Linked DNA regions of Homo sapiens: regions 1 and 3 are each linked to region 2. The links come from fine-mapping of genetic effects on gene expression. A gene starts in region 2. Each other region holds a variant in brackets. All regions are shown on one strand. Distances are from middle to middle. Region 1 overlaps NUDT4 (nudix hydrolase 4). Region 2 holds the start of MRPL42 (mitochondrial ribosomal protein L42). Region 3 overlaps LOC124902985 (a long non-coding RNA gene).

What was found. PIP is the estimated chance that this variant, and not a neighbour inherited with it, causes the effect.
Region 1: its variant is fine-mapped to the expression of MRPL42 in monocytes (Kim-Hellmuth 2017, PIP 0.90).
Region 3: its variant is fine-mapped to the expression of MRPL42 in neutrophils (BLUEPRINT, PIP 0.95). The same link has a PIP of 0.9 or more in esophagus muscle and monocytes.

Annotation. Positions count from the first base shown.
Region 1 is chr12:93,400,214-93,410,838 of GRCh38, forward strand. NUDT4 (nudix hydrolase 4) reads left to right here. Exons shown (of 5, transcript NM_019094.6): 5 at 1-7,933. UBE2N (ubiquitin conjugating enzyme E2 N) reads right to left here. Exons shown (of 4, transcript NM_003348.4): 3 at 10,521-10,625; 4 at 5,471-9,866. The coding sequence ends at 9,826. Among named protein-coding and RNA genes, the nearest start is that of NUDT4, 28 kb to the left of the region's middle. The variant A/T (reference allele first, on the strand shown) is at 4,709.
Region 2 is chr12:93,463,052-93,473,676 of GRCh38, forward strand. MRPL42 (mitochondrial ribosomal protein L42) reads left to right here and starts at 4,463. Exons shown (of 6, transcript NM_014050.4): 1 at 4,463-4,503; 2 at 6,141-6,304. The coding sequence starts at 6,235. RefSeq lists enhancers at 4,295-4,354, 4,415-4,684.
Region 3 is chr12:93,522,872-93,533,496 of GRCh38, forward strand. LOC124902985 (a long non-coding RNA gene) reads right to left here. Exons shown (of 2, transcript XR_007063408.1): 2 at 10,302-10,625. Among named protein-coding and RNA genes, the nearest start is that of SOCS2-AS1, 43 kb to the right of the region's middle. The variant A/G (reference allele first, on the strand shown) is at 5,222.

The DNA.
Region 1 (10,625 bases), 63 kb before region 2:
TCCCTCAGTGTAGATTGCTCTTAAAATGTATTCAGTTATTTAGTGGCCCCCACAGGAGTGGAGTCTTGAAATCTAATTCTAAATGCCAGTCAGTGATGATCGCATCACAGTTGAGTGAAATGGCCTTCCTGTTCAGCTGTTAGAGACTGAAGATTGTTAGGGCACCTTAGAATGTCTCATCTTTTCTAGGTTGTCAACAGGTACTATTTGTCACATAACTAACTTTCGAGGCACTGGAACATACCTGAACTAAGAATTAAATCTTTTACTTTATACTCACTTAAAATCAAGAATCCCATCTAAAACACATAGGTACCTTATCTGAAACTCTTGCACTTCCCCAACCAGGGCAGAAATGAGGTGGGAGAAGTTTGACTAAAATGAGGGATGGGGGAAAGTAAAAGATGTTTTTTTTTTTTTGAGACTCGCTTTGTCACCCAGGCTGGAGTGCAATGGCACAATCTCAACTCACCGCAACCTCCGCCTCCCGGGTTCAAGCGATTCTCCTGCCTCAGCCTCCCGAGTAGTTGGGATTACAGGCGCCTGCCTCCATGCCTGGCTAATTTTGTATTTTTAGTAGAGACAGGGTTTCTTCATGTTGGTCAGGCTGGTCTCAAACTCCTAACCTCGTGATCCGCCTGCCTCGACCTCCCAAAGTGCTGGGATTACAGGCATGAGCCACCATGCCCAGCCAAAGATCATTTTTTTATATAGACTTCAGCCCTTTGTAAATATTGTAACTGGGGAGTATAGAGTAGAAAAAAAGTATAGTTAAAACATTTGTTCTACAAATTAACCTTTAAAAATATAATTACTGCTAAAAATAGAGTGCTGTTACACTTAAGGAAAATTAGTGCCATTTTGGAAATGAGATCTTGTGCCATAAATACAGCTGAACTGAATATAAATGTTCACAAATTAATGCTGTCAAAGGAATGAGTAAAGCAGAAAAACTTTTAACCAGCAACATTTCAAGTACGTAGTGTGATCAAACATGATCATCCAGAATTTTTATATTTTTTTCTTTGTACAGAGGTTACATATTCTGGGTGTTCTTTTATAAAGGAAACATTTTAAATCCCACAAATTGACACTTTCTATCTTCAATGGACTAAGATTTTTTTGGTCAGTAATCTCTGAAATTTCCTTAAATTATATACTTAACATAGCAGAGAAACTGGATTGTTTTTGTATATAAGACTGCTTCCACCTGAAATGCTGTCATAAGTACTGGGGGGGTGGGGGAGTGCCCATCTTGTACATGATATTCTTAGAGGTAATAAGGTAATGATGCATGAATTTATTTTATAAACTCTTGGACTATGTATTTGACATGTAAAATATGTACAGTATTAACGTCAACCATCTCTTTAAAGTTAGCCTATAAATATTGTTGTATAATTTTCTTTGGTCAGAAACACTTGGACTGAATAGTGACACTCGGTAAGGATTTTCAGTGCCATTTAGCAAAACGTCTTTAGTCTATGCAACTAGCAAAAATCTGCATAATGCAACAACACAGTTTTCACACTTCAAATTTTACATGAGGGGTTCTTCACGATTCTCCTGGAACCCAGTCTAGCAAAATGAGAGGAAAGGCCCTAGGGAGATTTATTTCTGTTAAATAGTTAACTCTGCTGAGTATGACAAATAGTGTCTACTATCTCAACCCTCCAAAATTTGCAGAGTGTTGGGACTGTCATTTGTGATTTTTTTTTTTTTTTTTTGGTGGGGTAGTTGAATAAAATTGGGCAGCTAAATTTTTCAGTTCCATGTGCCTCCCAAATAAAAAACAGAAAATAAGTAGTTTTTGTGAATTGACTTGCAGACAAAGTAGAAACTGTGCTGCATGATGTTATTTTGTAAACAGATGACATTTTCTGACCAGGCACATGCCATCCAATTTTCTGTCAATCACACTGTTGTATAAAGCAGCAGAACTGAAGGGGAAAAATGATTGTTGTATACACTGAATTGCTTTGCATGGTCTCATTTGAGATAATTGATGTAAGAATCCTGACTTTTTTATATTTGGAAACATCAAATAAAAATGGAAAAAATGATCATGGCTTTAAAAAAAAAACAAAAACACACACACATGAACTCAGATTTGCAAACCAGGTTTCTGAAACTTTGGGTAAGGTGTATGCTTTTAACTTTGAAATGTATAAACACCCAGCGGAAACGTATACCTTTCAGTGCATAGTGCATTGTGTGCTTACCCTGGGTTGTTTAAACTTGTGTTCAAATATTCCCCCTCCAAGTGAAAGCCTGTCGGGAATTCCACAGTAACACCTTTACTGTTCTCCCATTGATGATCATATACGTTACCTCTTCCTAGCGGTACATTTGTATGATCCTTACTACTGGAATTACCGGGTTAAAAGGAAATGCTTACCACTAAGATGTCAGTATTCTCCTCATGGATATTTTCAGTCTCAATGTTGCCAGTCTAATAGTATAGTATGTGGTTGCTTTACTGCTGTTCTCCCCACCCCCGTGGAGTTGTGTCATTATTTTAATGAATGTGAGCTCTTGACTTACTCTAGAATTCTAATACAGATACTTTCTGCACTAGTATCACTTTTATTATTGCAGTTCCATTTAAAAGCATAACTGGCTAAGTCACCGCCCCACCCGCCGCATTACATTTCCTAAAACATACTGCTGCCAAAGACCAACTGTAGAATCCTTAAGTCCTGTTCAAGTGTCACTTCATTTTTTATTAGGGGTTTCTTAGTTGGAGGGCATGAGAAACTTGGCCCTTTCCAATGTTGTCTTCACATTGGAGTATAAGAATTCTCTATAGGACTCTTTAATTTTTTTTTTTTTTTGGTAGAGATGGGGTCTTGCTGTGTTGCCCAGGCTGGTCTCAAACTCCTAGGCTTAAGCAGTCCTCCAGCCTCAGCCTTCTCAAAGTGCTAGGATGATTGGCATGAGCCACCTCGTCTGGCCTGCAGGTCTTTTTAAGCATTTGCTGTTCAATAATAAGCATCTTCTTTATGCCTAGTATTTGTGATAAGAGCACAAAACAATTTTCTAATCTCAAAGAGCTTATATTCTAGTGGGGTAGAGATAAGTGATTTATCTTGGTGTAGTTTTGGCTTTTTTGTTTGTTTTTTTGAGACAGCATCTCACACTGTCGCCCAGGCTGGAGTGCAGTGGTGCAATCTCAGCTTACTGTAACCTCCGCCTGCCAGGTTCAAGCGATTCTCCTGCCTCATCCTCCCGAGGAGCTGGGATCACAGGCGCCTGCCACCACGCCCGGCTAATTTTTTTGTATTTTTAGTAGAGACGGGGTTTCACCATATTGGCCAGGCTGGTCTCAAACTCCTGACCTCGTGATCCGCCTGCCTCGGCCTCCCTAAGTGCTGGGATTATGGGCGTGAACCACCGCACCTGGCCTATCTTGGTGTTTTTACATCCTTCAGTATTTTTCAAGGTTTTACAGCTTTTTTATCTATAGACTTATACCATCTTCAAAAGCAATACAATTTTATTTGTAGACGTGATTTCCCCCACCAAATGCACATTTTATGGAGCTCTAGGACAAAAGTCAGGATGAAAAGTAATCTATCGCTGGTGCTACTTTAATACCTTCCTGACTGGTGCCACTGGCTAAATTCTAGCAGTACGATGAGAGGGCCATTAAGGCCTATCTTAGCAAGCAAGACATTATAGCAAAGACCTAAACACTCAAAGGTTCAACGTCTTCTAGCCAGGGAACTATTCTCTAATTCTTCCACCTTGATATGATTTCAGCAAATTCTGATAACCCGGTATTACTCTTAATGCATTTTTGTAACATTTGACAAACATCTCCCAATATGTAGACTCCCACTCTCCTGATGCTAATCAGTATCAGACAATGGAAGTAAATTTTCCTGCTTTTCTCAACTTTTCCTCAAATTCATGTTAGTGAAGTACTTTCATTTGGCCATCATTATTTATCAACCTTAAGAAACATGCCTATTGACGAAGTAAATATACTAGGAATTCAACGTATCTACGGGAATGTGGACAAAGACATATACCAAGACAAGGCACTAGAGTGAAAAGCCATTAAAATAAAATGCTCAGCAGCAAAGGATTTGTAATGGTTAACTTGCAATATATCCATATGGTGTAATATTACAGTCATTAGAAATGACATTTGCGTAAGGATCTGAGTGGAAACTGATACAGCCTGTCGGAGAGCTACTGAGTAGTATTTTATCACAGCTGCATACATACCCTTTCACCCAACAGTTCCACTCCTGGGAGTCTAGTCAACAAATGGACAAGTTGCACAACCAAGCTATGGTCAAATATGTGTGTTGTAGGATTTATGAAACTGGTACCAATTTAATATTCAAATGTGATTAAGTCATGGCAATCTATTTACTGGATACTTTGTGGTTACCAAAGAGCTATGTGCTGCCACAGGGAGTCCTTTCAATAGTGATTGAAAAAGGCAGAACACTACTAGACAGAACTACCTGTTTTATGCATGTATTGGCATACACTGAAAAAGCTTAGTCACTTAAAATGAGGTTGTACAGATTGTAGATTTTGTTTTTAAACGCCTGTATGGTTTAAAAAATGTTTTGGGAAATAGACATGAGCAGGGCAGAGAACTACAACCTACAGGCCAAACCCCACCCCACTGCCTGTTTGTACGGCCAACAAGTTTAAAATTTTTTTAATGTTTTAGGTTTTTTTTTTTTTA[A/T]AAAAAATACTATGCCCATTTGTTTACAAATCGTCTGTGGGTGCTTTCTCACTACAATGGCAGAATTCAGTAGTTGAGACAGACCTATGGTCCACAAAGGCCGAAATATTTACTGTTTTAGGAGAAAAAAACAACATGAATTGTAATAACTTGGACTTACTTGGTTGCTCAGTCCTGATGTGTCCTGTTAAAACCTAAGAGAAACAGCACCAAGTTCAATCTAGTGCAATCAGCCTATCACATCTAAGCTGCTTTTGCCAGATCTGATATCTACTCCCGACCTTAAGCCAGGAGACTTTGTAAACTTACTAGGTTATAATAAAACTTAAGAACTATCGATATTTACTAATCTACATCATGGAACTATTTCAAAAGCAGTCATATGGTAAGATGGATCAGGAGTCTTTAAAAATAAAACTGAGAAAGAAAAATCATGTGATCAATTCAGTAGTAGAGACAGAGGTTGGTATCAAGTCTATGTTCATACACTTACCAGTGCCACCCAGCAGGGCCATACAAGACACATGAAATGAGATCAGCTCAAGGGTGACAAGATGAAACTGGGAGAGGGCCGGGGAGACCCGAACTCTTAATATTGGATTCCACACAAGAGGAAAAATTTTAGTCCAGCTCCCAGCATGGCAGCTAATGGCAAGTTAGTACCATAAAGCCAACTCTTGGAATATACCTGACTTCCACGATAAAATGGAGATGAGTGCAGGGGTGAGTGTATAGTTAAGAAAACAAACAATATATTACTAGTCCAGGTGGTAGATGACAGATTTTTATTATTTACACTTCTCTCAAATTATTACATTCAGCATGTTTTGCTTTTTATGTTATTTAAAGTATAAACCCTCATATAATTCCCTAAGATGGGTGGCATGCCAAGTAGCTAAATGAAATATCATCCCAGCCCAAAAGTACTTATTCGAATGAAATATTACATTTTTCTTAAATAAAGCAATAAATTAGGTACCCTATTATCATGGTATTTTCTTTTTTGGCCAGCTTTTCTAGATAAGGTTGTATTGCTACTGCAACTAACAAAAAAGATGTGGCAGGGCTGGGCACGGTGGCTCACGCCTGTAATCCCAGCACTTTGGGAGGCCGAGGCGGGCAGATCACGAGGTCAGGAGATGGAGACCATCCTGGCCCAACATGGTGAAACCCCGTCTCTACTAAAAATACAAAAAATTAGCCAGGTGTGGTGGCAGGTGTCTGTAGTCCCAGCTCCTCAGGAGGCTGAGGCAGGAGAATCGCTTGAACGCGGGAGGCAGAACCTGCAGTGAGCCAAGATCATGCCACAGCACTCCAGCCTAAACTACAGAGCTAGAAAGTGGCTAGAGCAGCCAAAAAAAAAAAAAAAAAAAAAAAAAAAAAAGGTTCCTGAACCATTCAACAGAAAAATGAGGCCTATTCCTATCATTTCCTCGATCCAATTTAGTTCCACTTAGGTCACTGTGTTTATAATGTCTTTTAGGACAGATTTCCTTCCCCATTCTCCATCAAACAACCATAGCACCTGTGACTTTTATCTGTTGGTTTGTATTTAATCTTATTTTTAAGTGCTTCTTTGAAATTGTTTTACAAGTACATTCTTGGTCTAGAGTAAGGTTCTATATAGTTGGCCCTCCATATCCATGGGTTCCACTTCCGTGGATTCAAACAACCAGACAAAATATTCCAAAAAACATTGTGTCTGTAGTCAACATGTATATTTTTGTCATTATTCCTTAAACAATAGTGTAACTATTTACATAGCACTTACATTATAATAGGTATTATAAGTAATCTAAATATTAACATAAGCGGGAGGATTTGTGTAGATTGTATGCATATACAACATCATTTTATTCCAGAGACTTGAGCATCTGCGAATTTGGATATCCAAAGGAAGTCCTAGAACCAGTTCCCGACAAATACCAAGAGATGACTTTACTTTAGACCTAAGATCTTGCTAGACAGCCTTTGAGAGGATGAAGGATAACTAGAGCAGAAGCAAATCGCAGCGAAGTAGACTACAACAATCAAGTCAAAAAACATAAAGCTCCTATCAACACCTCAAGATTTTAGAAAAGCCTCTTAACGGGCAATTTTCTTTTAAATAAAGACTGGGTCCCACTATGTTAGCCAGGCTGGTCACAAACTCCTGGACTCAAGTGATCCTCCTGCCTTGGCCTCCTAAAGTGCTGGGATTACAGGCATGAGCCACTGTGCCCGGCCTGGGCAGTCGATTTTCAGGAAGCCACTTAATGTTCAGATTCTTTTCTTCTCTCCCAGGACTTTGCAGATGCTGCTGTTCCCTCTGCCTGGAGATGTTCATCTGGCCTGAATCCAAAAGTCTGTCCAAGTTACTTCTCTTTTCCATGACAGAGTTACAACTATTTGTCTGTCCCCCTTCCCCATTAGAGTATATGGTCCCCAAAGGAAAGCCCCATGCCATTCACTCACCACCTAATCATCCCCAACAACTAGTGGGCAAACATGAAACACTTTTGTTGAATAATGTGTTTCCTTTAGCCCAGGGATTACAAAGTCAAAGGCTTACAAGGGGGAAGGACTAGCAGGTGTGCTCGGAGGGGACTCTAGCCAACTGGAGAGTAACTGGTGAGAAGACAATGACATGCTCTTAGGGTGTCTGCTACTCAGATCCTCTCAGTTAAGTCCCGTGCACAAAGGTGGGTCAGGTCTACTGTTGCCAGATCTTCAGATCATTCAAAAGTTACCCGAATTCTGGATTTTCATGCAAATCTCCCAATTTTTAAAAATGTTGGCATCAAATTCAGAATGTTTTAACCAGCCACACTGTGTGGGCCAGGGAAAACAGGCCCAAAGGCCAGGTGAAGCTGCAGTTTTCAACTGCTGCCTTGGCCTCTCCCAGAGCCCCTTAAGTCCTAAGAAGGCTCAGTCAACACACTGGCACTCGTTTCATCCCACTGGTTGAGAAAGCAAGTCTTAGCAAAGTAATGGGGGAGTCTTACCAAAACTGCAAAGGAAAAAAATATGATACCATGAAATTAGAAATTCACTGCATTTGAAATGAAAATGACTTATTTCTGTACTTCTATAACTCACAAATTTAGCAGACATCATTTAGACATTTTTGTAGTGCAACAGATTTAAATCTGGAATTTCATGGTTTGTAAATCACTATGTGATACTAGCTATAACCATGAGCAATATTACGGGCAGTAAATGTTGATTTCTATTTCGTTTCTTGAAGTTTTGTGTGGTTCATTTTTAAAGTGAGATTCAATTTCCTTAGCTATAGTCAAATGTACCCTTTAAACAGCCCAAGAATTGTTATAAATGACAGCTGCTATCAGTTTTCAAATTTTACAATATTAGGGTTGTTAACTATTTCATTCTGAATTAAGCTAACATTTGTTACCAAGCAATGCATTTATTTGGAAGGATACCAGTTACCAGTCATCAAAAGCTTTTGTATGTTGAAAATGTAATTTTAATAGTTAATTCTTCATCTTACATAGGAGCACAATAAAATACACCACAATCTGAAGAAACTCCAGAATTACGAGAATAAGAGTGAAGAAAATTCAAATGGGCTACAATATCCATTACCTTAAACTGCAAGAGACAAGGTTGCAACCCGAAGGTTAACATTTATGTATTTATGACTGGCTACATTTATGACTTAAAAATAACAAGAATCAGGAATTAGATATGGAGAGAGGTGGGAAAGAACAGTTTTGTGAGGGGAGGAATTCGTCAATAAAGAAGAAAAATTACTGAATTCCAAATTAAAGAATAAAACGAGCTCCCACAGCAAATACTGGAGGGATGAAAGCAAGAATCATTAACTGAGGACTTGATACTCTCAAAGGGATAAACCTTTCTGATGACACACAAGCTAGATAGTTGAGATCTGCTCATCAGGTTTATAAGGAAGACTCACAAATGCCTCAGCAAATCCCAAATGATCAGATCAGTGTTTCTTAACACACATGAAAGGTTACAGATGAAATTTTCAGATAAGAACCAAGAAAAATGTCATAACCCAAATTTTAGGCAAAAATGTGGCACAACTGTGAAAGTCCTACATGTCAGTCACAACTGCTATCTTTGCTGTGACTTTCCTGTACAGTAATTTTTAAACATTGTGGCAAGACACCAATGATCATCTAATCAGACAACACAAACACATTTATTTCAAATTCCTAGAAGGTTAAAAAAAGGTCAGATACTGATGCTTTATGCATGCTCAGGGCCAGTTTATAAATACTCCATTCAGTACTATCTTAACACAAATCTGCATCAGTGAAAAGAAACTGGCAAAATCCACCTCTTGCCATTCAATTTGTCAGATGGTGAAGACCAAGAAAGAATGTTCCATCAGTTTCAATTTTAAAATACGATTGTCAAATTGGGAAAATGAAATAAACACAGTAAAATAAACTGTACAAAGGCAAAGTAGAATAACAAAAAATATTTTACTAAAACATAAGATTTACAGAAGTTTCCAGACAAGCCATACAAAATGGTCACAAGCTTTTTTTGAAGGGGGGAATCTACACTTGACAGCAATGTTATTAGTGAGGGCTGTGATGTTTGTTTAATGTTCCCATTTTGGTTCCAACAATCAAGCTTGTCCATCTACAGCGTCTAAATAAAGTTAGACTTGGCTAGAGCATATTCTAAAGACCTGGTTAGCTGCTTTTAACCAATGCAATTAGATCACCAAAAAAGGGGGAAAGGAGCCCATAAAATTAAACTACCTCCCCCCTCAAAAATAAAATAAAATAAAATAAAATAAAAACACCCACACCCCTGCAGCTAACCTGACAACTACCTTCATTCACAGTGCTTTATACTTAAACCAGGATGGGGGAAATGAATAAAAGCAGGGAGGGGCCACTGCTTTTAAACGTTTCACAACAATCCAGATGATACTTCTAGCCTCTGCTCATGCTTTATGACAGTGAATCAGGACAAGACATAGATTTGCTAATGTGCATTTAATCACCAAAGGACTGAAGATGTCTGGGCTTTTTTATTCTGTAATGTTTCTAAGACTGTGTCCATTAAATGCAAACAAAGAGGAGGAAGTCTTGGCAGAACAGGAGAAGTGATGCACACTTGATGATCGTATCAATTTAAATATTATTCATGGCATATAGCCTAGTCCATGCTCTAGCTGTAGACAGAAACAAACATACGATTATTATTTTACTTAGTTCAATATGTTACTTTCCAAACTATAAATGGCAAACAACCACTATTAATTATGGAAATGTCATGCTGTAATCTGTTAAATTCACGCCTTTTTCTATAAATTGGATCAGGGCTGAAAGATTTTGTAAATGTCCAATTACCAAAACACTACAATAAAATTAAGAAGTTCTAGAAAATTCAAGAGGATGAATCAAGTTGTCCATTTCTAGATACACAATTCTCCCCACTAATTTTCTTAAAATCTGTAGCAGAAGCTTCTTGACTCCAAATTCCGTAGCCATAAACAGCTGAATACTTTAATCAAATGGGTTACAAAAACAGTTCAAGTTTTCCAGTATTCTTTACATATAACTAGATAAATGGTATGCACTCAGTATTTGTTAAACCAGGTGTAGTTACAAGAGACTCCAAGATCTTTCAATTACAGGTTGTCTTTATATTTGGGGGGTCCCATAGCAAGCCATTTTGTTAAGACGTATTTACATACTATAAGCAGGATCTCACTTATTATACTTTTTTCTATTTCTTTTCCTTGCCAAGAGCTTTAGAAAAGTTTAAGTGGTAATACAAATTTGTAAAAGTGGAAGTGGTGTGAAGGAGAATGAATATTAGATACCTGTTTCTATGGCTTGGGCTTCGTTGGTCTTCCACTGCTCCGCTACATCATTTGCTAATGGATCATCTGGATTGGGAGCACTTAACAAGGCCTGGATCGATAGCA
Region 2 (10,625 bases):
CTATATTTTGTATTTTGAAATAAGCATGGCTCAGCCTAGCACAGTGGTTAAGTTCACGAGCACTGGTAATAGTAGTTCCTGGGTTCAAAGCACAGTAACTTGTGTGACTTTGAACAAGTTGTTCAAACCTCTCTGTGCCTCTGTTACTTCTGTTTGTAAAATGACAGTAACAATAATTGTTTAAGTGTTTAGAAAGTTCATTCCTTTTTTTTTTTTTTTTCTTGAGACAGAGTTTTACTCTGTCGCCCAGGCTGGAGTGCAGTGGTGTGATCTCGGTTCACTGCAACCTCTGCCTCCCAGGTACAAGTGATTCTTCTGCCTCAGCCTACTGAGTAGCTGGAATTACAGGCGTGTGCCACCACGCCCGGCTAATTTTTGTATTTTTAGTAGAGACGGGGTTTCACCATGTTGGTCAGGCTGGTCTGGAACTCCTGACCTTGTGATCCGCCTGCCTTGGCCTCCCAAAGTGTTGAGATTATAGGTGTGAGCCACTGTGCCCAGCCAGAAAGATCATTCCTAATAGTTTGGTCATAAGATTGCTCTGGAGTCTTTGCTCTCTGATTGATACAAAGAATGACTTTTTTTTCTGGGAAGTTACAGAAGAAAAGGCAATCCTCTTTTAAATGGAAGCCATTTGATGCCAATTCCAAAGTTCTAGAATTTTGTCTGTTTGTCATTTTACTAGCATGAATTTAAAGCATTTGTAGCTGAGCACAGTGGCTCATGCCTATAATCCCAGCACTTTGGGAGGGTGAAGTGTGCGGATCACTTGAGGTGGGCGGATCACTTGAGGTCAGGAGATCGAGACCAGTCTGGCCAACATGGTGAAACTCCGTCTCTACTAAAAATACAAAAATTAGCTGCGCATTGTGGTGGGCACCTGTAATCCCAGCTACTCAGGAGGCTGAGGCAGGAGAATCACTCGTACCCAGGAGGTGGAGGTTGCAGTGAGCCGAGATCACATCACTGTACTCCAGCCTGGGTGACAGAGCAAGACTCCGTCTTAAAAAAATAAATAAATAAAATAAAATAAAGCACTTTTATGTAGGCCAATATAAGTTATTTGCTGGTATTTCAAGTTTGTATTTTTGGAAATTATACTTTTTAAGTTGCTAGCACTGACCTCTTAAGTTAGGAACACTTTGTGACATGGCCTCTCTTAACTACTCTTACATCACAGTATTTGTTTTCCTTCTACCTTTCTCACTGCCACTCCTGGGAGGCCCTTGCTAAAGGTTATCCTCCTCCATCTGATTTCTAAGCCTTCGAATTCCCTGGGGCCAGCTTCTAGGCCCTTTATCTTTTTTTTTCTATACCTAGTCCAACCTCTACTCTCCAAACACACCTCTTCAAGTACCTGCCTTTTGTTTTTTGTTTTTTTGGAGATGGGGCTCTCACTCTGTTACTCAGGCTGGAGTGCAGTGGCATGACCATAGCTCACTGCAGCCTCAACCTCCAGGGCTCAAACGATCCTCCTACCTCAGCCTCCTTAGTAGCTGGGATCACAGGTGTGCATCATCAACCTTACTAATTCTGTTTATTTTTTGTAGAGACAAGGCCTCACTCACTATATTGCCCAGGCTGCTGACTTGTTTTGTATCTCCACTGGAGTGTCTCAGAGCCATCTCAAACTCAACAACTCCCAAACGGAAGTATGCATTTCCACCATCATCAGACTCCCCAAACCTGTTCCTCTTTCAGTCTTCCTTGTCTTATGAAGGGCACCACTGTCAACTAGTCATCAAAGCATCACCTGAAGTATCTTCCTCCCTCTCAATCAATCCATCAGCAAGTTAAGTCATCACTTCCAATTTCAAAATACATCTGGACTCTTCCTGTCTCTCCATCTCCACTGCCACCACCCTCCATCACATGATTTCTTGACTGCAGTACTGCAGTAGCTTCCTTGCTAGACTTGCCTGCGGTCTTGCCACTCTCCAAACCACTCCTCCCAGGGCAGCCAGAGTAACCTTTTAAAAATGGAAATCAAATTATGTCACTTCTTTCATGTAAAAATCTCAAGAGACAGGGCTCACTCTGTCACCCAGGCTGGAGTGCACGGCACGATCATAGCTTACTACCGCCTTGACCTCCTGGGCTCAAGCAATCCTCCCACTTCAGCCTCCCATTCCCAGGGTAACTAGGACTACAGGCACACAGCACCACCTACTCTATTTAATCTCTACATATGTCCTGTGTCCTAACTCCATGTTAACCCCTCCAAGGCTTATGAAGCCCAACATGACCTGGCTCCAAATCTCATCTCCTGCCGCTCTCATCCACACTATCCACCCTACTCCAGTATATGGTAAGCTATTTCCACCACATTAAACCTTTGTGTAAGTTGTTCCCTCACTCAGCCTAAACCTGTCTCTCCCCTCTCTTCCCCCAAAAATGTTGGTTTCTTTTCTGGTCTCAGCTTTGTGAGACCTTCCTTGGTCCCACTAAGTGAGTCTCCCTGTTGGGGACTGGTCCCACTCTGCTCACAGCCATCAAGACTTGACCTCTGGAATTATCTTTGATCCATTCTTCTTACACTTTACGCAGGGAATGTTCAACCAGTCCAGTTGACTGCTCATTCAAATCTGTTTCTCCTCTCTGTCCCTTCCTATTGCACAGTCCAGAAAGACATCATGGGTGGCTTTGGAGGATGGACACGACTGGAAAGGACACAGATGGGCCCTCTGTGGGCTTCTATAAGAGCAAAGATTAGCCTCCTGATATTCCGTGGGAAATGAGGAGACACACTACACAGCCCGTATTTAGTTTTCTTTACTATGTGATGTGTGTTCACTTACTTTCAATACTAGTCACTTCAGGAATATGGTTCTTAACTTGTTGAGGGGTTTATCAATTCCCTGGAATACATAATAAAAGCTATAGATTATTTCTTAGAAAAATATACAAAAGCAAAATTTTGCAAATCATGGGAGAAGGGAATTTCCAGGCGACCGCTTCTGCTTTACCAGCCAATCATCTACTGTCTTGGATACTTGCAGCGTTATCTAGTCTTTTCATTCATTCAGCAAACACTTCCTGGAGACCTATAATGAGACCAAGCACAGTCTGAGATGCTGGGTTTGCATACAGTGAAGAACAAGATAGACATATGTCTCTGTCTTCAAGGAGCTTACATTATCCAGCATAAGAGACATTAAACGAGGTTGGGTGTGGTGGCTCACGCCTGTAATCCAGCCCTTTGAGAGGCCGAGGTGGGCATATCACCTGAGGTAAGGAGTTCGAGATCAGCCGGGCAAACATGGCGAAACCCCATCTCTACTAAAAATACAGAAATTAGCTGGGCGTGGTGGTGGCCACCTGTAATCCCAGCTAATTAGGAAGCTGAGGCAGGAGAATCGCTTGAAGCTGAGAGGCGGAGGTTGCAGTGAGCTGAGATCATGCCACTGCACTCCGGCCTGGGCGATAGAGCAAGACTCCGTCTCAAAAAAAAAAAAAAAAAGAAAGAGACATTCAACGAGCAAACAAATAATCAATATAAAGTCAGGTAATGGTAAATATTCTGAAGGAAAATAAAGCGGGGCATGGAATAAGGGTGGGTGAGGCTATTTTAATGGTGTGGTCCTTTCTAAGATGATATTTGAGAAAGACCTGTAAGGTCATGAGAAGAGGTCAGAGAAGCACATTGCTGGCAATGGGAACAGAGAGTGCAAAGGCCCAGAGGTCTTTCCTTCCTCCTAAGATGGAAAGCGAGGTCCAAGATTCTGCATATTTACTTCCTCCCATAATAGGTAGCCAGCACAGTTCTGAGGGCACAGTGCCAGGTTTTCAGAGTGGAGGTTCTCTTCAGGTTCTGATTTCAAACGTCCAAATCCTAGCCTCCACATTTCAGGGCTTCTCTGGAATGTCTCTTCCCCTGGGAAACTTTAACTCATCTACTAAAGAGCAATCTACGATTTCTCTGAATATTAACATAATTTTTTTAAAAAGTACTTATAGGTTTGCATGGTGGCTCATGCCTGTAATTCCAGCACTTTGGGACGCCGAGGCAGGAGGATTGCTTGAGACAAGCCTGGGCAACATACCGAGACCTCGTCTCTACAAAAATATTAAAAAATTAGCTGGGTGTGGTGGTGTGCGCCTGTAGTACCAGCTACTCAGGAGGCTGAGGTGGGAGGCTCTCTTGGGCCCAGGAGGTAGAGGCTGCAGTGAGCCGTGAGGGAGCCATTGCACTCCAGTCTGGGTGACAGAATGAGACTGCCTCACAAAAAAAAAAAAAAAAAAAAGCTTGTTACTTTCTAAGGGTATGTGTTTGGGGCAGTGATTTTGTTTTTCTGGGCACCTTAGTAACACTGCGGCCACGCTTCCCCAACTAAAGGTAAAAGTCCATAGCAACAATCCTCCCTTTCTCTCTGCACCCGGGCCGCTTTCCCGCGGAGACTACATTTCCCAGAATGCCCCGCGGGCTGGGACGGCGCGCGCAGCGCTGTTTCGTGGGACCAGGATTGAAACAAGATGGCGGGTTCGTGGTGAGAAGCCGTCAAGGTAACCGCTTCCCTCTACTCCTCCTGTCGAGGACTTCCTCGAAACTGGGCAGTCCCACAGTGTTGGTCGGCAGTTGTAGAGGTCTCCCGCCTGTCGTTCCCGGCAGGGCGAGGTTGCCTGCATCCCCAGCCTTTGTCCTTCCTGCAGAAGAGCCGGCATGTGGCTGCGCGTTTCTTATAGCGCCCCCTTTGTTCCCTGGCGGACGCCCGTGGGGAGGTGATGCAGCTTGTGGCTCTAGGGACTCCTTTAGGTCGAAGAGTTCTGGTGCTCTTGGTAGCCTGTTCCTCAAACCTCTGACCCTCAGAGGCTCTGTAGCTTTTGTTTTGGGGTTGAATTCCGGGCTGAGGGACTTGATCTCTGAAATGATCTTCCTGGGGTGAATAATCTGACTCCCAGCAGGGCGTGCTTTTCTCTGGGCTTCGGACAGAGGGGACCTAATTTCCCCCAAGATGTTTTATTCGTGGTCAGAAGTCATGGGTTTACGTCCCACGCATGTATTAAGCAGCGATATACTGAGCAAGTAATCGATTGACCTCTCTGAGCCTTTGTTCTTAATCTGAAATGGAGATGCTGCTTCACACACTTGTGAAAGTCAGAGCACATATTGTATATGAAAGTGGGTTGTAAACTAAAAAGCACACCTATGAGCTCAGGGTTAACGGTGTTAATGTACTGGCAGTGCAAGGTATCAGTGTGAGTGGTTTAGACTAGCAAATAAGAGGGCCTGTGTCCTAATTCTCTTTTATCACTATTGGGGGGAAGGGCACGGATACTCATTGAAGACTATTAAAAACAAGATTTAACAATGGTTATTTGTCATTTATTCACAACAGGCCATGAAGATTGTGGTTTTCCCCATTTTGTCATTGGAGAAACTGAGGATCGTTTAGTTAATGACTTGTTTAAAGTTTCCCAATTTGGCAGTGACTGACTCTAAAGTCCTTGGAAGCAAGACGTTTAAATTTTGTACTTTAGTTTCTTCATGAATCAGAATAAAGATACCTCACATGATTAATACGAGAGCAAAATGAAATGGTGGTGAAAGTACGTTGGAAAGTTAAAGACTTTGTACACATATAAGATGGTGAAATTTTATCTGGGACTTGAGGGCATTTATGAGTTCCTCCAATTGAGTAATAGGCTAAGGATAGGCCTTGTTTGATATTTCTTTATTATTATTATTATTATTAATGGCTCAGGGCAGACAACTATTTCATTTAATCAGAAACAGGATAGTACTGTAAATGATGTAGTATCTTGTGTATGGAACCTTGGAGGGTGTACACAGCCACACTAGCATTAAAAGAATGAATACTCTGTGTACCATTTGTGAGTGACTGTTTCAAGAGTAATTACACATTTACTGAGTATTCATTAAGTGGAAGGAGCTGCACTGGGTCCTGCAGAGAAGTTTGTATCTAAGATAAATAGTAATGGACATAGTTCCAGTGGTTCTGATCTTATATTCTGTCCATGTCGCTCTTCGTCCTGTTGTTCAATCATGTGGAATTGCCAAGTTGTTTAAAAGCATTGCTTCAGTTGACTTCTAGGCAGTGATTCTTACCTTGTTCTTGTGGTGTTTAATATAACTTAAATTTACCATAGGTAGCACTGATTTTTCTTTATCTCTTCAGCAGGAGTAGAAATTGGTATGCTTAGAAGCAGATTCTAAAAGCAGTTTCTCTTCAGAACATCTTTTTTCATACCACTTGATAAGCATCTTGAAACACCATGGCTGTAGCTGCAGTAAAATGGGTGATGTCAAAGAGAACTATCTTGAAACATTTATTTCCAGTCCAAAGTAAGTGAAATTTTTTTTAATGTTTAAAAACTTTTAAACTTTTAAGAATTAAGAAAATTTAAAGCATTTAGTTATTGTATATGCCTGTAATTTGCAGGAGTGTTTGCAGCAATGGAAAGTGGGAGAAAACCTAAATGTCAGTCAGAAGGGGAATGGATAGGTCAGATGTGGTGTCTCATGCCTGTAATCCCAGCACTTTGGGAGGCTGAGGTGGGAGGATTGCTTGAGGCCAGGGGTTTGAGACCAGCCTGGGCAACATAGCAAGACCCCCACCTCTAAAAAAAAATGTGGGTTGGGGAGGGGAATGGATAAATTATGGTACATCTGAACTGTGACTGTCATGTAGCTGTTACTGACATGGAAAGATCTCCAAATAGAAACAAAAAAAGCATGTCAGAACCACATCTATATATATCTATCATATGATCTTATTTGTATGTTTAAAAGATGATCCATCATATGCATGTGTGCATATGCATAAATGCAGAGGTAAAAGGTCTGGACCAAACAGTGGTTATCTGTGTAGCCCACTCTTGGGATTTGGCTGAGGGCAGGAGTAAGGGACTGGTCAAGGGTAACTTTCTCTTGTTCGATTACATGTATTACTTTTTTAGTATTTCTCTCTTTTTTTTTTTTTTAACGGAGTCTGGCTCTGTCGCCCAGGCTGGAGTGCAGTGGCGTGATTACTTTTTTAGTATTTCTTAAAATGTGCGAATAAAGGGTAAATTCACAGTCCCATCTTCCAAAGATAATCATTGTTAATATTTTGGTGGATTGTCATTGTGTTTTTTCTATGTACCTAGCCATTTTTAAAAAAATGAAATGTAATTTCTGCCTTTCTTTTCTAAAGAACTGTATATAGTTAGTATTTTCTCGAAAGCTTGTTAATACATGTTTGACAGTCAAAGCATGGACCCAAATAAGTAAATAGAGTATTAAAGTCTTTTTTCTCAGCCAACTGTGCTTTCTTTTTCCTTTTCCTGTCTGTAAACAGAGTTTATAGCTCTTATAAACAGCTCTTATAGGAAGCTTTCCATTTCTAAAGTAGACATGTATAGAAGGCAACAGTAGGTTTGCCTTTTTATATTAAACTATGTGAGCCAACTTTTTATTTTTATTTTTTATTTTAGATTCGGGCGTACATGTGCAGGTTTGTTACGTGGATGTATTACATATACTGAGGTTTGGGCTTCAACTGAACCCGTCACCCAAATAGTGAACATAGTACCCAATAGGTAGTTTTTCAACTCTTCCCTCCATCCCTCCATTCTGTTTTGAGTCCCCAGTGTTTATTGTTCCCATCTTTGTGTCCATATGTACCCAATGTTTACCTCCTACTTGTAAGTTAGAACATGTAGTATTTGGCTGTTTTTGCATTAATTCACTTAGGATAATGGCCTCCAGCTGCATCTGTGTTGCTGTAAAGGACATGATTTTATTTGTTTTAATGTCTGTGTAATAATCCATGGTATGCATATACACCACATATTCTTCCAGTCCACCATTGATGGGCTTGTTTCCATGTCTTCGCTATTGTGAATAGTGCTCTGATAAACATGCAAGTGCAGCTGACTTTTTAAATACAACTCTGCTTGACCTTGACCTTTGTCTCTTCTTTCTTATTTCCTATTTACCACCATTTGTAATTGAAAGTTTGCTTATTGAATTAGGGAGAAAAGAGCTATTTGAAGAATGGAGTATAAGTAAAGTAATAAATAGGCAATTTGTTATGCTTGAGACGAGGAAAATATTTTACTCAGTAAACACCTTTGTTGAATAGAATGCTCAAAAGTTTGCCAGATCCTACTCTATTTTATTTTATTTTATTTTTTGAGACTGGATCTTGCTCCCAGGCTGGAGTGCAGAGGCATGATCTTGGCACACTGCAACTTCTGCCTCCCAGGTTCAAGTGATTCTCCTGCCTCAGCCTCCCGAGTAGCTGGGATTATAGGCACCTACCACCAGGCCTGGTTAATATTTGTATTTTTAGTAGAGGTAAAGTTTCACCATGTTGGCCAGGCTGGTCTCGAACTCCCAACCTTAAATGATCCTCCTGCCTTGGCCTCCCGAAGTGCTGAGATTACAGGTGTGAGCCATTGCGCCTGGCCTAATTTTTGTATTTTTAGCAGGGGAGGGGTTTCACCATGTTGGCCAAAACTGGTCTCAAACTCCTGACCTCAAGTGATCTGCCCACCTCAGCCTCCGAGAGTGCTGGGATTATAGGCATGAGCCACCGCACCTGGCCACCAAATCCTGCTCTTATAGGAAGCTTTCCATCCCTGCTTCCTTGCTTGCCCCACTCTCCCATTTTTTAGGGCCCTAAACATAGAAACATTTATTACATTATATTCAAAGTAAAATCAACTTAGAATTCAGTAAATAGAACAGGACATTGCTTAAGAGACTTTGGATATAAACCAAAATAAGTCACAACAAAACTGCAATCAGCTTTTGATTATCTAGGAGCATTTTTGTTGTTGAGAATTGGGAGAAAGACCCTTACTCTTACTTCTTAGATTCCTCTTTGCCTTGCAGGAACCCAGCTCCTAGGCTAATGAGAAGTCACATCCAATCAGTTTTTACATAGACTATGTTTTGAAACAATTAGTCCTCACACAGGCCCATCAGAAAACCAGTTAATGTGTCCCTGAATAATTGAAAATTATTTATATATCTTTTTCCCCACTGGATTTCCCACTAAGTTTGTACTGGATCTAATTCATTTTGGTGTCCCTGGGGCCTCTCATTCATGATAGGAGATCTATCAGTGTTTGTTCAAGTAATCTGAATGGTTTAGAGTTAACTCTCAAAATATCTAGTTAACTAAGAATTAGGTTACCCTAGAAAATCATTCCATTATCAGTTATCCTAATACTCAGTGACCTAACTTCTTATATCCGAAAAGTCCCTTATACTGCAAAGTTCCTGTTGCTACTATTATTGAAAGTAAAGGGCTGGGCAGGGTGGCTCACACCTGTAATACCAGCACTTTGGCAGGCTGAAGCAGGCTCTGAAGTTTGAGACCAGGCTGGGCAACATAGGAAACCTCATTTCTACAAAAGTTACAAAAATTAGCTGGGCGAGGTGGTACACGCCTGTGGTCCCAGGAGGGAGCCAGCTTACTCAGGAGGCTGAGGTAGGAAGATTGCTTGAGCCCAGGAGTTCGAGGCTGTGATTGTGCCATTGTACTCCAGCCTGGGAGACAGAGTGAGACCCTGTCTCAAAAATAAAAAATTAAAATTAAAGAAAGTTTCATTACTGTTATTATTGATGTTTAATAAAAAAGGGAAGGACAGTAAGATTGGAGGCAAAGCGAAATCATGATTAAGGAAGAAAGTTCAGTGAGCAAAAATAAAAAGCCTTCCTTATATTCTAGAAGGAATATTTTAAAATTTCCCAAATGGTCAGTCAGCCCGGGAGTGTAGAACACTTCACAGTTTTCAAAGCATGTTAAGCCATTTGATCCTTATAACAGCTTTGATTTTGGTAGCCCATGTAGTATTATCCTCTTTATGAAGGTAAAGAAACTTGAGTTCTGTGGCCCTCATAAGTTCACCCAGGGTCACATATTTGGTAAACAAAAACTGTGACCAAAATCTGGATCTCCCACCTTACTTTGTCCTGTATACTTTCTACTGTACTTCCTTTTCTGTAGCAAGGTAAAATACTGAGCATTTGAAGATGGGACAACTTTTAGCTTTCATAGCTCTTTCAAAATGCAATTAAATATATATATGTAACAAGAATAACTCATAAATTACAGAAATTATTGTTAATTGAAATTCTTTTGGCACATTGAGCTTAATTGCTGTTAACTTTGGCATTGGTCCTAATTATATATTTAGAGCTTCTGCTACTTCTATATCCAGAATTACTTCCATTGGTAAAATATCAGGTAATGAATGTTTCCTTATTTTTTTTTCAAGGTGAAGTCTCACTCTGTTGCCCAGGCTGGAGTGCAGTGGTGCAGTCTTGGCCCACTGCAGCTTCGACCTCCCTGGGCTCAGGTGATCCTGCTATCTCAGTCTCCCAAGTAAGCAAGACTACAGATGTGTACTACCATGTCTGGTTATTTATTTATTTATTTATTTTTGAGATGGAGTTTCACTCTTGTTGCCCAGGCTGGAGTGCAATGGCATGATCTTGGCCCACTGCAACCTCCGCCTCCCAGATTCAAGTGATTTTCCTGCCTCAGCCTCCCAAGTAGCTGGGATTATAGGCATGTACCACCATGCCCGGCTAATTTTGTATTTTTAGTAGAGATGGGGTTCCACCATGTTGATCAGGCTGGTCTCGATCTCCTGACCTCAGGTGATCTACC
Region 3 (10,625 bases), 60 kb after region 2:
GGAGTCAGCCAGGTGAAGTCTGAAATCTTCTATATTAAATTCAGGCGAGGGGCTGACATTCATTAACGCTCAAGGGTATACTGGCTCCTAGGTCATTCACATAAAGGAGAGAAACTGGTCTATCCACTTCCATTCTAGCCCTTTCTAATCTTTCTCTAGACCAAAATCAGGGTGCTCTTTTTGCGGTGCAAATCTGGTGTCATTTCTGTGCTTTCAACACTTTAGCATGTGTATTTAACTTTTTAAAAACTTTTTGATATAGACAAATAATAAAATGCACAGATCTTCAGTACAGTTTGATGAGTTTTGATATACCTGTGAAACCACCACCCTAAACAAGATAATAGACTATACCATCATCTCAGAAAGTTCCCTTGCTCCCCATTTCCTGCCATTTCACCCTCTTCTTACCTGCTACCCAAAGAGGAAACCAGTTTCTGATTTTTGTCACCATAGATTTGTTTTGTCTATTTTTGGATTTCATACAGTCATACAACATAGACTTTTTTGTGTCAGGTTAATTTTACTGCACATAATCTTTCTGAAATTTTCCTGTGGTGGCGTGTGATCAGTAGTCTGTTTAATTTATTTATTTATATGGAGTTTTGCTGTTGTTGCCTAGGCTGGAATGCAGTGGCGCAAGCTCACCACAACCTCCGCCTCCTGGGTTCAAGTGATTCTCCTGGCTCAGCCTTCCGAGTAGCTGAGATTACAGGCATGTGCCACCAAGCCCGGCTAATTTTGTATTTTTAGTGGAGATGGGGGTTTCTCCATGTTGGTCAGGCTGGTCTCGAACTCCTAACCTCAGGTGATCCACCCACCTTGGTCTCCCAAAATGCTGGGATTACAGGTGTGAGCTATTGCGCCTGGCTAAGTCTATTCCTTTTAAATGCTGAGTGTGGATGCTCTATATGAATATATAGCTTTTTTTTTTTTTTTGAGACAGAGTCTTGCTGTGACACCCAGGCTGGAGTGCAGTGGCATGGTCTAGGCTCACTGCAACCTCCTCGTCTTGGGTTCAAGTGAATTATCCTGCCCCCAGCCTCCTTAGTAGCTGGGACAACAGGCACGTGTCACCATGCCTGGCTAATTTTGTATTTTTAGTAGAGATGGGGTTTCACCATATTGGCAGGCTGGTCTCAAATTCCTGACCTCAGGCGATCCACCCACCTCAGTCTCCCAAGGTGCTGGGATTTCAGGGGTGAGCCACTATGCCCAGCCTATGGCAATTTATTTATCCACTCTCCTGTTGATTGACATTTGGGTTGGTTCTAGCTTGGAGCTATTTTAAGCCTGCTATGAATATTTGTCTTCAAGTCCTTTGTGGATATGAGTTTTCGTTTCTCTCAGGTAAATACTCACCAAATCATAGGGCCTTTGATAGTCTAAAGACCCATTGTTTTTAGGATGAAGACTCAAACCTAAGGCCCCACATGGTCCTGACCACTTCTCTGGAGGCGTCCTGCACACTTGCCCCTTCCCTTAACTCTGAATTTCAGCCTCTATGTATATGTTCTTCCCTCTGCCCAGAACATGCTTCCCTCCCTCTCTTCCTGTTAACCTTGACTCATCCTTCAGATCTAAACGCTGGCAACATTAAGGTAAAGCCCCTTATCATAGGCATTCCCAGCTCTGTGTGCTTGATGTCCTAGCACTTACCAAGACTGTGGCTTTATATTGACATGTATGAGTATTTGTTTAATGTTTGCTTCTCGTGCAACAGCAAGCGTCACTAGGGCAGATGTTGTGTTTGTTTTATTCACGCAGTGCCTAGCCTAGCTTCTGGCACATACTAATCACTCAACAAACCATTGTGGGATGCATGAATGATGACTGCCCTATACCCCATGGCGAATTTTTTTCTCTACTTTGGTGAAGTCTCATTTGGTCACCCAGAGAAGAAACCCTCTGTGCCCTCATCATGGATTTTTTCATGACCTGGACACAGCAAGAGGGGAAAAGACGAGGCAATCAGTTACGTTCAGGCTACCTGGCTTCCAGGAAAGAGAAAAGCTTAAACTTCAATCTTGATCATTCTTGTCCTAAACCATTATGTAAACCAAATTCCTGCTAAACGGGCTTCCAATCCAAATAAGACAACAAGGCAACACAGTTAGCAAATATTTCACCTTGAAGGAGGCCAAGAGATTTGCTCCTGGTATTTTTTCCCCTTGGTTTGTCTTCTGGAACAACCGGGTACTGGGGGCATTCTCAAGATGGCACTGCGTTTCTTAGAAAGTGGGACTGTTTCTTGGTAGAAGTTGTTCCAGACGCTGGGTGCAATGGCGCACGCCTGTAATCCCAGCACTTTGGGAGGCCGAGGCAGGTGGATCACCTGAGGTCAGGAGTTTGAGACCAGCCTGGCCAACATGGTGAAACCCAGTCTCTACTAAAACTACAAAAAAAACTAGCCAGGTGTGGTGGCGGGTGCCTGTAATCCCAGCTACTCCGGAGGTTGAGGCAGGAGAATCACGTGAACCCCAGAGGCAGAGGTTGCAGTGAGTCGAGAATGTGCCATTGTATCCAGCCTGGGCGATAAGAGTAAAACTCCGTCTCAAAAAAAAAAAAAAAAAAAAAAAGAAAAGAAAAATTAGGGGCCATAATGTTCTTCCATCAATAAAATTTGTTTCCCACGTGGAAATGCACAACCATGGGGCATTTTTACTGTCTGAGTGGCCACATGGGGGTGCTGAGTCGAAAGGCACATTTAACAACGTGTTGTTACTGTGAGCAAGGCTATTCGGGGATGCGTTTTGCTATGCATCCCCCCAAAATCCCAATACATGCAGTAATAAAGATGATTAATATAATCTTACATACCTTCACATGACTCTGTCTTTTTCATGGGGAATTTCCTCCCCAGGTGGGCGTTTTGTCTGTCTCGAATGATAATAATGAGTAGACAAGTGTATGGATACTGTCTCTTCTTTAGATGTTTTGCCTTTGCAAAAAGAGTGCAAATCGAAGTGATCCTACAGATGAGCTGTAAGTGTTAAAGAAAACAACATTAGTTTGTATCACCACCAGACTACTTTTATTGCCACCAGAAAATGAAAGTGTTTTAGGAAACAGCAAAGCCCTATAAAAGGAATAGAATGATGTCCGCCAGTCTTGAAATAGGGATGGGTGATTCTTGAAGAGGATTTGAGGAAGTCAAAGGTGATAATACACGTTAGAAAGTTGTGGGGGGTACAGGTGATGGATTGCTTTTTATTTAAAAATATTTATTATTATTCTTTTGTACTTGATCTTAGCCAAAAGGCCGAGGAGCAATTATTATTATTTTTTGAGACAGGGACTCGCTCTGTCACTCAGGCTGGTGTGCAGTGGTGCTCACTGCAACCTCAACCTCCCAGGCTCAAAGGATCCTCCTGCTTCAGCCTCCTGAGTGCGTGCCACTGTGCCTGGCTATTTTTTTTATTTTTTTGTAGAGATGGTGTCCCACTGTGTTGCCCAGGTTGGCCTCAAACTCCTGGGTTTAAGCTATCCTCCTGACTCAACCTCCTAAAGTGCTGGCATTACAGGCGTGAGCCACTGCACCCGGCCTGGATTGCTTTTATAATTAAAACAGAAAATGATTTAAAAATCTAGCAGAGAAATGAAGGTTAACATAAAATAACAACAACAACAACATAGATGATATTAACACTCCTGGAAAAGCATTGAATGGAAGAAGGAAAGATGAAAACAACTCCTTCTCCTCCCCCAAAATAAACAACAAAAAACTTGATCTTGAATATGGGTCCATGGAAGAAACTCTCCTTCAGGACATTTTAGATGGAAATAGAGTCCATATGCAGTAATGGGTGTGCTTTCATCTAAAATGAGCTTCTGTTAATAATAGTTCTAGAGCACTTTGTGTGTGCTAAAATTTTTTTCTGAGATTTTGGTTTGAGGATCTTTCCTAATTTAAGAGAATTTTATTCGTTCACTGTTTTGTTAGGTGAAGAGTTGGAAATATTTCTGTCTCATTAAACAGCCTCGATTCAAAGACAGACCACCTGCCTGATTTCCTACTCTAGTCCTCTAAAATAAAGACAGGCAACTGTGGGCATTCCTGAAAATTGTTTGCCTTGTCCATTCAAGCTCATTTTTAAAGAATGACTCACGGCCAATCTGCACTCCAGCCTTTGATACTTAAGAGTGTGTGTGTGTGTATGTGTGTGTGTGTGTGTGTACGCAGAGGAATGGTGGAGAGAGGTATAAAAAGAAAATGAACAAAGAAGTGTGGGTTAGAAGCCATACTCTGAGCTAAGGGCTGCACTTAATTGGAAATTAGGGGCCAACCTACAAGTACAATGCTATAAAACTAAGATCAGGACAAAGCCATCAAAGTCCAAGATTACTCTGGGGGATAGAGACATGAGTCTGAAGCAAATGACATTGTGCCTCAGTGTGTGGGCAGACCTAGCTTTGAGGAGACTGGGGAAATGTTATAATTTTGGAAACCCTCTTGAATAAAGAATACAATTTTAGGTACAAATACAGATGCTCCTCAACTTAGATGGAATTGCATCCTGATATACCTACCATAAATTGAAAATATCCTAAGTCAGAAATATAGCCAGGTATGGTGGCTCATGCCTGTAATCCCAGCATTTTGAGAGGCCAAGGTGGGAGGATTGCTTGAGCCCAGGAGTTCTAGATCAGCCTGGGCAACATAATGAGACCCTGTCTCTACAAAAAAATTTAAAAATTAGCCAAGCATGGTGGCACATGCCTGTAGTCCTAGCTACTTGGGAGATGGAGGGGGGAGGATCGCTTGAGCCTGGGAAGTAGAGACTGCAGTGAGCTATGATGGCATGATGGCACTCCAGCCTGGGCAACAAAGTGAGACCCTGTCTCTAAAAAAAAAAAAAAAAGAGGGAACAAAAAGGAAATGCACCTAACCTACTGAATATCATAGCTCAGCCCAGCCTACCTTAACTGTGCTCAGGACACTTACATGAGCCTACAGTTGGACAAAATCATCAAACACAAGCGTGTTTTATAATAAAGTGTAGAACATCTCATGTAACGTACTGAATACAGTACATTGTAGAGTACAGTATCAGTTGTTTACCCTCCTGATCTCATGGCTGGCTGGCAGCTGTGGTTGATACCACTGTTCAGCATCTTGAGAGTACTATTGAATATTGCTAGCCCAGGAAAAGATCCCAATTCAAAATGCCAAGTATGATTTCTACTGAGTGTGTACCACTTTTGCACCATTGTAAAGTCA[A/G]AAAATCATAAGTTGGGGACCATCTGTACAATAACAAGACGACATGGCAGTGATTACTAAACACATACACACATCCACTACACCCGACTTCGCGTATCCCCAAGCCAGATTCCATAGTGTCCAGGGGCACTCCAGAGTTCTCTGACACGAGGAAGATTGTGATGGAAGAAAAGTCAGAGAGAAAGGACTTATTTGTTAAAATGCATGATCAGGTGCAGTGGCTCATGTCTGTAATCCCAGCACTTTGGGAGGCAGAGGTAGGTGGATCACCTGAGGTCAGGAGTTAAAATAAAGGCCAGGCGCAGAGGCTCATGCCTGTAATACTAGTACTTTGGGAGGCTGAGGTGGGCAGATTGCCTGAGCTCAGGAGTTCAAGAGCAGCCTGGGCAACATGGTAAAACCCCATCTCAACTAAAATACACACACACACACACACACACACACACAAAACAGCCAGGCGTGGCAGTGGGCACCTGTAGTCCCAACTACCCAGGAGGCGGAGGCAGGAGAATCACTTGAACCGGGAGGTGGAGGTTGCAGTGAGCTGAGATCACACCACTGCACTCCAGCCTGGGTGACAGAGCAAGACTCCATCTCAAAAAAAAAAAAAAAAAAAAAAAGAGAAAAAAAAAAGAATTTTATTTTTATTTCTCAAAAGGTATACGCACTTTCCATTTTGATACTGTCAAAATGCCCTCAGAAAAGTTGATGTCTGTAGGCCCACAATGGTACACAAGTGTCCTCTTATTCCTTAACAAAACTGAGTGAGATTCTTTTTTAATCCCTGTAAACCTGCTGGGTAAAAAATAGCTTATTGTCAATCATACTTGCTATTTTTATTATTAGCTTGATGGCTAATTTTATGTGTCCATTTGGCTAGGCTCTGGTACCCAGTTTTTGGTCAAACACCAGTCTAGACGTTGCTGTGATGGTATCTTTTTAGATGCGACTTAAATTTAGGCTGGGTACGGTGGATCATGCCTGTAATCCCAGCACTTTGGGAGGCCTAGGGGAGAGGATCCCTTGAGCCCAGAAGTTGAAGACCAGCCTGGGCGACATGACAAAACCTTGTCTCTACAAAAAAAAGGAAAGAAAAGAAAATTAGCCAGGCTTGGTGATGTGTACCTGTAGTCCCAGCTACTTGGGAGGCTGAGGTGGGAGGATCAATTGCACCTTGGAGGTTGAGTCTGCAGTGAGCCATAACTGTGCTACTGCATTCCGGTCTGGGCAACACAATGAGACCCTGTCTCGAACAAAACAAAACAATATTTAAATCAGTAGACTTTGAGTAAAGCAGATTACCTCCATAATATGGGTAGGTTTTGTGCTCCTTATGAGAATCTAATACCTGATGATCTGAGGTGGAACAGTTTCATCCCGAAACCATCCCCCCCGACCCCTGGTCTATAGAAAAATTGTCTTTCATGAAACTGGCCCCTGGTGCCCAAAAGGCTGGGGACCCCTGTCCTAGAAGAACTCATGTTGGCATTAAGAGTGTATCCGCCATCATCCATGTGTCCTCCACCTGAGGGATGCCCTTTTGCTCCTCCACTACCTTTTCTTCCACATCTCAGACATCTTGGAGGGCCTCTGTTTCTCGAAGGAGATGGTGGTCTCCACCTAACACCACTTTCAAAAGATGGTTCGTTGGCTTGCTCTACTTGAATTGCTTTTCCATCCAAAGACTTTCCCTTCATATCGTTGGCAGCATTCTTAGCATCTGCAGGGCTCTCAAAAGTAATCAATGCAAAGTCTCTGGACTTGATTTTCCCATCCTTCATCAAAAGAACTTCTGCTATGTGGCCATATTTCCCAAATACTGCTTAAAGAGCCTTTTCATTAGGTTCTGTATTAAGGCCACCTATGAACAGCTTGCCAGGTGGATCTGCTTCCACAATTTTGCTCCTTTTCCAGATTTTCTGAGATCTCACCTTTATGCTTCCCTGGGTGATCATTAGCTAAACTAATCTAAATGTCTCTTTATATATAATTACACATGCACACATACATATACATACACACACACACACCCATCCTATGGGTTCTGCTTCTCTGGAGAACCTTGTCTAATACAATTAGTGAGGTTACCTAGGTCAAATGTTTATTGGTATCTGTATTTCATTTCATCTTATTCCCTTCCCCCTTCCCTTTCCTCCTTTCCTCTTCCTCCTCCTTTCCCTCTCTTTCTTTTTGTTCTTTGCCCAGATCTTTTTTTAGATCCTCTGTGTGAACAGGGGTCCCCCAAAGTGAGGGGCTCTGGCCTATGTTCCCTAATTTGCTGGGAGTGAAAAGCCTTTTTGACTAGGGACTTGTACTACCAGTGAGATTGTGCAAATAAATACATTAAATAAATAAAGCTAAGTAATGGAGAAGGCTGCTTAGTTATGGGAACTTACTTTCAAAACCATTTCCTCCTTCATTTATCAGTTAACAGCTGAATGCAGAATTTCCTGTTGTTTCTTTTTTTTTTTCCTTTCCTTCATAGCAAGTGATATCATCACAGCTACCTAGAAGAACGATTTCCCACAGTGACGGAGGTTCCGTGATGTCATTGGGATTACAAAAGCCAGGAAAGAAATTTGCTATCGGTATTTGTTGCCAGAAATTACGAAGCAAATTAATTTCAAACTTTCTGGGAAAGAAACCCTTCAGTGAAAGTAAACATTTAAGAAATTATTATTATACAAGGAAATTCTGTCCTTAATCTGCCAGAGAGAGAATGCCTGCAACCTCAAGGTACTAAATAAACAGGCCTGGTATAAGAGAGAGTTCTATTTTGGGGATATTTAGTGGGCTAAGTATCTGTGCCAGCGGTCCCCAACCTTTTTGGCACCAGGGACCTATATCATGGAAGATCATTTTTCCACAGACTGGGGTTGGGGATGGTTTGGGGATGAAATTGTTTCACCTCAGATCATCACACATTAGATTTTCATAAGGAGCGGGCAACCTAGATCCCTCACATGTTCAGTTCACAATAGGGTTCGTGCTCCCGTGAGAATGTAGTGGCGCCACTGATCTGATAGGAAGCCATGCTCAGGTGGTAATGATCGCTCACCGGCCGCTCAATTCCTGCTGTGTGGTCTGGTTTCTAGCAGGCCATGGACGGGTACTGGTCCACAGCCGGGGGGTTGGGGGCCCCTGATCTGTGCCAAAACGCTAACTATCTTCAGATTGGCTAGGCTGGTAACTGGACTATTTTTCAAGCAACCAGACCTGTCCTGATGAAGCTTTGAAGTGTCTCGCTTTCTCTATCCTAGGTCAGATCTCCTGAACACGGTCTCCCTTCCCTTTAATGGAAGTAGAGGTGCTAGGTTTCTGTGACTGCTGTAACAAATTACCACAAACCGGTGGCCCAAAACCCCGGAAATTTATTGTCTCACAGTTCTGAGGCCAAAAGTCCAAACTCAAGGCGTCGGCAGGACTGGCTTCCTCTGCAGGGTGCAGGGAGAGTCCGTTCCACGTCTGGCTCCTGTCTTCTGGAGGCTGCCGCCATCCTTGGCGTTCCTTAGCTCATAGGCGCATCCCTCTGATCTCTACCTCCATCTGCACAGCCCCTTCTCCATGTGTCTTCTCCCTTCTCTTCAAGTTTTTTTTTTTTCTTTTCTTTTCTTTTTTTTTTTTGAGTCAGGGTGCTCTGTTGCCCAGGCTGGAGTGCAGTGGCCCTATCATGGCTTACTGTAGCCTTGACTTCCAAGGCTCAGACAATCCTCCTGCCTCAGCCCCCCAAGTAGCTAGGACCACAGGCATGTGCCACAACGCCTGGCTGAATTTTCAATTTTTAGTAGAGATTGGGGGTCTCACTATGTTACCCAGGCTCATTTTGAACTCCTGGGCTAAAGCAATCCTCCTGCCTTGGCCTCCCAAAGTGCTGGGGTTACAGGTGTGAGCTACTATGCCTGGTCATGTCTCTTTTATGGTGATACTTACCACTGGATTTAGGGCCCACTCTAACCAGGATGTTAGGTCATATTCTCAGGTGAAAGGTGTTAGGGCATGGACATATCTTTTTATGTCTTTTTATGCCACAATTTAACCCACTGCAGTGGATGAGGGTTTATGACCGCCTGGCCCCATCTTCTCCCGGAGGTGATGGTGACTCTTGAGAGCTGACTCTTTCAAGTGGTGGCATGTGAAATCTTCACAGGTTCATTCATTCATTACTGTAATGGGCTGAATTGTGTTCTCCTGCTGCTCTCAAAGTCATATCTTGAAGTCCTAACTCAACACCCAGTACCTCAGAATGTGACTGTATTTAGAGGTGGGGTCTGTATTAGTCCATTTTTATGCTGCTGATAAAGACATACCTAAGACTGGGTAATTTATAAAGAAAAAGAGGTTTAATGGACTCACAGTTCCACATGGCTGGGGAAGGCCTCACAATCACGGAGGAAGGCGAAAGGCACATCTTACATCACAGCAGACAAGACAGAATCAGAACCAAGTGAAAGGGGTTCCCCCTTATAAAACCACCAGATCTCGTGAGACTTATTCAATACCATGAGAACAGTATGGGGGAAACTCCCCCCATGATTCAAGTATCTCCCATGGGGCCTGTCTCACAACAGGTGGGAATTATGGGAGCTACAATTCAAGATGAGATTTGGGTGGGGACACAGCTGAGCCATATCAGGGTCTTTAAATTGGTATTAAGGTTAAATGAGGTCATTGGGGTGGGCCCTGATGCAACATGACTGGTGTCCTTATAAGAAGGGGAGATGAGGACACGGGAGAAGGCAGCCATCTGCAAACCAAGGAGAGAGAACTCAGAAGAAATCAATGCTGCCAACAACTCGATCTCAGACTTCTAGCCTCCGGGACTATGACAAAGTATTTTTCTGTTGTTGAAGCCACTCAATCTGTGGTACTTTGTTATAGCAGCCCTTGGGAACTAGTGCAGTTACTAAGAACCCACTCTCTGCCACATCTTCCACAAGGCAGAGGCACATCCTCTGGGACTGGCTGTGAGTCTGGAGATAGTTACCATTTTAGTCCAGATAGTTAGCCCACCAAGTACCCCCAGAGAAGGACTATTTGTCTCTTACTAACATCTCACTGATATGGTTTATTATTCTAAAGATTTGGGTGTAAACAAGAGTTTATTATGTCTTCAAATATAAAAAGCTACAGTAAACAGCTGATTTTTGAAAGTATAATGAGGAAGATGCCATAGAAACTGTGAAAGAGGTCAGTGAAACTAGAGGAGTCCACCTGGGCTTAGATGATGTGATGTTTAAGCTGGGATCAAAAATGAATAAATCACAGGTGAACGAGGAGGAACGTTCCAGTCAGGGAAAAGTAAAAGTCTAAAGAAAGCCTGAGCAACATGGTGAAACCTGTCTCTAGGAAAAATAAAAAAAAGTAGCTGGGTGTGGTGGCGCACCTGTTGTTCCAGCCACTCAGG